Linked DNA regions of Homo sapiens. The protein of the gene in region 1 purifies or fractionates together with the protein of each later gene. This does not show direct contact. Each region holds a gene or a part of one and is shown in the gene's direction. Other genes may lie near its edges.

Region 1 (3,917 bases):
CTTGACCTCCCAAAATGCTGGGATTACAGGTGTGAGCCACTGCGCCTGGCCAGATGGACTTTTTGTTCTTTCTTTTCTTTTTTTTTTTTTTTGAGATGGAGTTTTGCTCTTGTTGCCGAGGCAGGAGTACAGTGGCACGATCTTGGCTCACTGCAACCTCTGCCTCCTGGATTCAGGTGATTCTCCTGCCTCAGTCTCCCAAGTAGCTGGCATTACAGGTGCGCGCCACCACACCCGGCTAATTTTTGTATTTTTAGTAGAGACGGGGGTTTCACCATGTTAGCCAGGCTGGTCTCGAACTCCTGACCTTAGGTGATTCACCTGCCTTGGCCTCCCAAAGTGCTAGCGTTATAGGCGTGAGCCAACACGGTCAGCCGGACAATTTTTTAAATCAATAATTCATCCTTTAGCAAATATTTATTGAGCATCTGCTATCTACCAGGCACTGTCTAGTCACAAATGATTGCAGTGAACAAAAAACCAAAAACTCCTCTCATGGTGTTTATATTTTAGTGGGGACAAACAATAAATCAGGGAAAGGAAAGTATATTGTATGTGAAATGATGGTAAGCATTAAGGAGGAGGTTATTTTTATTTTTACTTTTATTTGTTTTTTGATAGAGATGGGTTTTCATCATGTTGCCCCGGCTGGTCTTGAACTCCTGGGCTCAAGCGATCCGCCTGCCTTAGCCTCCTTAAGTGCTGGGATTACAGGCGTGAGCCACTGTGCCTGGGCCTAAAGAGGAGTTTAAAGCAAGAGGGAAATAGAGAATGTGAGTGGGGATGGGGTTACAAATGACTTGATCCTGCTTATGTTTTAAAAGGGTCATTCTGGCTACCATGCTGAGAACAGACTATAGGGAGACAAGGACAGAAACGGACCAGTTAGGAGACTTCCTGTAATCCAGGAGAGGGTGAGAGCTAGACCAGCATGGTAGCAGCGGGAGTATGGGGAGAAGTGGTTGGATTCTGGATATATTTTGAAGGTCGAGTCAAAGGGATTTGCCAATGGATTAGACATGCAGTGTGAGAGGAGAGAGGGGAGTAGGGTTTTTGGCCTGAGAAATGAGAAGAATGGAGTTGCTGTTTACTAATACAGATGGGGTAAAGGTAGCTGTGGGGGGCATATCAGGAGCTCAGTTTTGGAACGTTTATTTTTTATTTTTGTTTTTTGAGACGGAGTCTCGCTCTGTCGCCCAGGCTGGAATGCAGTGGCGCCACCTCGGGTCACTGCAACCTCCACCTCCCAGGTTCAAGCAATTCTCCTGCCTCAGCCTCCTGAGTAGCTGGAATTACAGGCACCCGCCACCATGCCTAGCTAAGTTTTGTATTTTTATTAGAGACGGGGTTTTGCCATGTTGGCCAGGCTGGTCTCGAACTCCTGACCTCAAGTGATCTGCTCACCTCGGCCTCCAAAGTGCTGGGATTACAGGTGTGAGTCTCCATGCCCGGCAGGGAACATTAAGTTTAAAATGCTTATTGGACCTCTAGATAGAGATGTAAGTTCAGTGTACAGTATACACAAACCTGGATTTCAGGGCAGATGTTTAAACTGGAGATAAATTGGAAATTAAGAGTCGTCAACTTATAGAGGGACTAAATCTTACCCACGAGACTGGATGAAGTCACAAAGGCAACAAGTGTAGATACAAAAGGAATTGATGCGAAATGTCCAACAATTGAGCCCTGCAGCTCCAATAGTTTGAGAATGGGAAGATGAGAAAGAGCCGGTAAAGGAGACTGGAATGAGAAGCTAGAGGTAGGAGGAGGACCAGGAGCATGTGATTGGGAGCAAAATGTAGTGGGGTTTCAAGCATCAGCTGTGTGAAATGCTGCTGAAGGGTCCAATAAAGTCCAGCCTGAAAATTGACCTCTGGATTGAACACTGGAGAAGTCATTAGTGACCATGTTAAAAACAGTTTTGTGGCTGGGTGCGGTGGCTCACACCTGTAATCCCAGCACTTTGGGAGGCCAAGGCGGGCAGATCATCTGAGGTCAGGAGTTCAAGACCAGCCTGGCCAACATGGTGAAACCCCGTCTCTACTAAAAATATTTTTAAAAGGCCAGGCGTGGTGGCCCACGCCTGTAATCCCAGCACATTGGGAGGCCGAGGCGGGCAGATCATGAGGTCAGGAGTTCGAGACCATCCTGGCTAACACGGTGAAACTCCCGTCTCTACTAAAAAAATACAAAAAATTAGCCAGGCATGGTGGCGGGCGCCTGTAGTTGCAGCTACTCGGGAGGCTGAGGCAGGAGAATGGTGTGAACCCGGGAGGCAGAGCTTGCAGTGAGCCGAGATCGCGCCACTGCACTCCAGCCTGGGCGACAGAGGAGATTCTGTCTCAAAAAAAAAAAAATTAGCTTGGTGTGGTGGCAGGTGCCTGTAATCCCAGTTACTCGGGAGGCTGAGGCAGAGGTTTCAGTGAGCCGAGATCACGCCATTGCACTCCAGCCTGGGCAACAAGAGCGAAACTCTGTCTCAAAGGAAAAAAAAAACAGTTTTGTGGCTGGGCGCGGTGGCTCACGCCTGTAATCCCAGCACTTTGGGAGGCTGAGGCAGGCGGATCACCTGAGGTCAGGAGTTTGAGACCAGCCTGACCAATATGGAGAAACCCCGTCTCTACTAAAAATACAAAATTAGCCGGGCATTTTATAGGGAGGCTGAGGCAGGAGAATTGCGTGAACCTGGGAGACAGAGTTTGCCGTGAGCTGGGATCGCACCATTGCACTGCAGCCTGGGCAACGAGAGTGAAACTGTCTCGAAACAAACAAAAACAGTTTTGTGTGGAGCAGTGGGTGAAACCCTAACTGGAGAATGGGAGAAAAGAAATTGAAGACAGTGAGTCTATAGGTAAGGAAAGAAACAGTGTGGTATTTGGAGGGAAGAGAGGGGTAAAGAGACTTTTTTTTGTTTGTTTTGAGACAGAGCTTGACTGTCGCCCAGGCTGGAGTGCAGTGGTGTGATCTTGGCTCACTGCAACCTCTGCCTCCCAGATTCCCAGATTCAAGTGATTCTCCCACCTCAGCCTCCCAAGTACCTGGGATCACAGGTGCCCGCCACCACACCTGGCTAATTTTTGTATTTTTGGTAGAGACGGGGTTTTGCCATGTTGGCCAGGCTGGTCTCGAACTCCTGACCTCAGGTGATCCACCCACCTTGGCCTCCCAAAGTGCTAGGATTACAGGCGCGAGCTACTGCGCCTGGTGAAGAGACTTTTTTTTTTTTTAAACTCAAATAACAGCATGTGGGTATGCTTGTGGGAACGGTGGAGAGAGAAATTGATAGTGCAGGAGCAAGGGGAGGGTTGTTGGAGTGGTGGCCTGTACACGCGAGAGGGGATGGGATCCTGGGCCCAAGTGGAAAGGAAGTGCTTGCCAGGATCACAGACTCTTCACCCATAGCAACAGGGAGAAGGCAGGGACACGGAAGCAGGCAGGTGGGTGATGGGTGTGGGTGCTTGTGGAAGTTACATATTTATTTTAATATGCATTAGGTAAAATAACCATATCAAACCTGTCATTTCGTGGATGCTTTTGCAAAGTGGAGAAAAAATGTCAACTAAATAGTAGGGTGGTATGCAGATAAAATACAAATGAAGATCACACTTGAATGCCTGGAGTTTTGGGAAAAGCTATTCTGGGAAGTGGTCAGGAGGAGGATGTGTGAGACTGGAGGCAGGGAGAGGATCTGGGAGGTCATTTTTTATGGGCAAGAAATGGAGGTCTGAGCTGCGAATGGCTGTGGAGGTGGAGAGGAGCAGGCAGGAATGGAATTCAGGGTGCAGCGCTGCTTAGGCTTGGAGTAAGGGGCTCTTTTCTGATGTGGGGCTGAGTGAATAGAAGTCCTGGACACGGCAGTGGGGCACCCTCAAGAAGAGCAGATCTAGGGTACAGATTTTATTCTTTTGGATGCAGAG
Region 2 (3,500 bases), about 39 Mb from region 1:
GAGGCTACATTGAGCCAAGATCGTGCCACTGCACTCCAGTCTGGGTGACAAAATGAGACCCTGTGTCAAAAAAAATAAATAAATAAAAGTGGGCCTGATGCGGTGGCTCACTCATGGCTGTAATCCCAGCAGTTTGGGAGGCCAAGGTGGGCAGATCACCTGAGGTCGGGAATTCGAGACCAGCCTGACCAACATGGAGAAACCCCGTCTCTACTAAAAATACAAAAAAAAATAGCGGGACGTGGTGGCACATGCCTGTAATCCCAGCTACTCAGGATGCTAAGGCAGGGGAATCGCTTGAACCCGGGAGTCGGAGGTTGCAGTGAGCTGAGATGGCGCCATTGCACTGCAGCCTGGGCAATAAGAGCGAAACTCTGTCTCCAAAAAACAAAAAAGTGAAAGAATATGAGCATATGAGCTAGGAGTAAGGAGACCTTCATTTGCCTCATGCAATTGACTTTGGCACTTTTGGCAACCTACTTAACCCATGTATATCTTGGCCTTTTCAAGTTGAAATAGGAAAAATTATACCTACTTAGTTCCTTTTTCGTCAAGCAGGTCTAAGCATAAAATGCCTTGATAGCTACGAAAACTTTTGGGTTGGGTGCAGTGGCTCACGCCTATAATCCCAGGACTTTGGGAGGCCAAGGCTCACTGCAGCCTCCGCCTCCCAGGCTCAAACAATCCTCCCCCGTCAGCCTCCGTAGTAGCTGGGACTATAAGTGTGTGCCACCACACCCGGCTACTTTTTATATTTTTTGTAGAGACAGTGTCTCACTCTGTCGTCCAGGCTGGAATGCAGTTCAAACCTTTTCTGCTGAAAATGTTTTGCCGAACTAGTCCTAGTAAAAGAAACAAATTTAACTGTATAAAAGTAATTAGAATTTGAGCTGAAAAAATGAAAATGTCATTAGGCATGATCTGATAGCACAAAACCCCACACTAGTTATTTATGGGGAAGTTGTTTTTACCATGTTGCCTGTGACCACTCAGTACCGGTACCTGATGAATTTGTGGTAATGTTGAGAAGTTATGGTGTTTCTGCAGTTTTTCCCAGGTCATGAGTCTCGGGCTACAGAAGCTTTGTGCTGGGCAGAAGGACAGCGACTCTTTAGTGCTGGGCTCAATGGCGAGATTATGGAGTATGATTTACAGGCGTTAAACATCAAGTATGCTATGGATGCCTTTGGAGGACCTATTTGGAGCATGGCTGCCAGCCCCAGTGGCTCTCAACTTTTGGTTAGTAAGCAACTATTGGTAATTCAAACCAAAATTTCTCTCGTGCCTGCTCAGACTTTCTTCCCTGTGCTCATAGGAGAGTAACGATATATTATGGCATGTGGCAACCCCAACTATAAGATTGGAATTGATAGTGAAGATTTTAAAAATCCCCAGCATTCTTTTTGCTACTAGTCTGGACCTTGTTGATTCATTTATGAAATGAGAGGATTACATCAGTTCAACATTTCCCAAACTGTGTTCTGTGGAATTTGGAGATGTAGAGGTTTTTTTGTTTTGGTTTGTTTTGTGTTTTATGGTAAATTTCATTTCACAAATACAGCATATTTAATCCTGCTGTAAATTCACAATGCACATCGGTACATGAAGAGTTCTGAGAGTCCCTTCAGCAAGTTAACCTGTGCACTTGTGTTTCAGCCCAGTGTTTCTCAAAAATATGACCACACACTGAGCCCCTTCCCATAATTACCATTAGAGTGGGTGCTTCCAGATCTTTAATTCTGTGATGAGTCTGATTATTTTTGATCTGCACTAATTTGCACGATATCTGAAGGTGTTTCCATTTAGGTTATAATGTTAGTAGGTCTTTTATTTAGGCCAAGGGTCTCTAGCAGAAGTATTCTATGAAATCCTACTTCTAATCCATGTCATACAGAGGAATGGGGCCACTAATTAGAACTCTTAATATCAGTCTGTTTTCTGTCTAGGATATGAAGGCTACTGAGAATACACTATTAGTTTCTTGATAACTAGTACTTTCTCTCACAAATGATTTTTCTTTTTCACGGCAACTGATAGCTTTAAGGAGGAAGAGAGAATAGAGAGAGTGTGTGTTGGGGGGTGTGTGTGTGTGTTTAGTCCTATAAAATGTTTACTATTGATTTTTTCTGTTTACTACCTCTTTCTCAAATAGGTTGGTTGTGAAGATGGATCTGTGAAACTATTTCAAATTACCCCAGACAAAATCCAGTTTGAAAGAAATTTTGATCGGCAGAAAAGTAAGCGTCATTTTTCATGGGGCGGTAAATAGCCTTAACAAGAAATTAAGTTTCTGTGCCACTGGGGATGGGATATTTTCCCATGAATCCAGGTAATATTTTATCTCTACTGGGTACAGGGAGGGTATGTGCTAGAAGCCATCCCCAGCCCAGGCTTTACCCATTGTATAGCATAGTTGTGACTGCTTGGTTAAGTAATAATATAGAAAACCAGAAATCCAAAATTGGAAAGCTAGTGTTTCTGTGGAAGTCAATTTGTTAGTTATCACTTACTTTTGTGATGTTTTAACAAGCGTACATGAAGTCTTGAACTACAATTTTGTCATTAGGAACTATGGTTCTTTTCTTTCTTTTTTTTTTTTTTTCTGGAGGCAGAGTGTCACTCTGTCATCCATGCTGGCAGTGGCGGTGGCATGATCTCGGCTCACTGTAATCTCCGCCTCCCGGCTTCAAGTGATTCTGGTGCCTCAGCCTCCCAAGTGACTGGGATTCCAGGCACGTGCCATCGTGCCCTGCTAATTTTCGTATTTTTAGTAGAGACAGGATTTCACCATGTTGGCCAGGCTGGTCTCGAACTCTTGGTCTTACTCAAGTGATCCACCTGCCTTGGCCTCAAGTGCTGGGATTACAGGCCTGAGCCACTTGCCCTGGCCAAGGAACTGTGGTTCTTAATCCTTCTGGTGCATTCAAGTTGAATGAGGGAGTTTATAAACAGTTGCCCATCCTTGGGCTCCACCTGGGCTGAATTGGCATTGACCCTTTAGAACAGGGGTTGGCAGACTGTTTCTGTAAAGGACCAGATAGTAAACATTTTAGGCTTTGCCAAACCTACATTGTCTGCCAACTCTGTCAGTGTAGTGCAAAAGCAGCCATAGACGATACTGAAACTAATGGGCAGGCTGTGCTCCAGTAAAAACTTTATTTACAAAAACAAGCAGTGGGCCTGATTTGGCCTGTGGGCCACAGTTTGGTGACCCATCTTCTAGAATAGCAAATGTCCTCTGTGTCCATTAGTAATACTTATCCTCTGCTAATCAGATTCTTGCTTCGTTTTTAATATATCTTGGGTGCTCTTTTTTTTTTTTTTTTTTTTTTTTTCCTGAGATGGAGTCTTGCTTTGTCGCCCAGGCTGAAGTGCTGTGGCGTGATTTTGGCTCAATGTAACCTCTGCCTCCTGGGTTCAAGCAATTCTCCTGCCTCAGCCTCCCTAGTAGCTGGGACTACAGGTGCGTGCCACCATGCCCGGCTAGTTTTTGTGTTTTT

The links.
Region 2: the proteins of TBC1D10B (region 1) and UTP4 purify together in Homo sapiens (co-immunoprecipitation; one large-scale study listed by IntAct). This does not show direct contact.

Annotation. Positions count from the first base shown.
Region 1 is NC_000016.10:30,360,293-30,364,209, reverse strand, and holds part of TBC1D10B (TBC1 domain family member 10B), read left to right. Parts: intron 1-3,882; exon of another isoform or gene 3,883-3,917. UniProt on the Homo sapiens protein: Acts as a GTPase-activating protein for RAB3A, RAB22A, RAB27A, and RAB35. Does not act on RAB2A and RAB6A.
Region 2 is NC_000016.10:69,135,649-69,139,148, forward strand, and holds part of UTP4 (U3 small nucleolar RNA-associated protein 4 homolog), read left to right. Parts: intron 1-1,047; coding exon 1,048-1,239; intron 1,240-2,152; coding exon 2,153-2,237; intron 2,238-3,500. UniProt on the Homo sapiens protein: Ribosome biogenesis factor. Involved in nucleolar processing of pre-18S ribosomal RNA. Part of the small subunit (SSU) processome, first precursor of the small eukaryotic ribosomal subunit.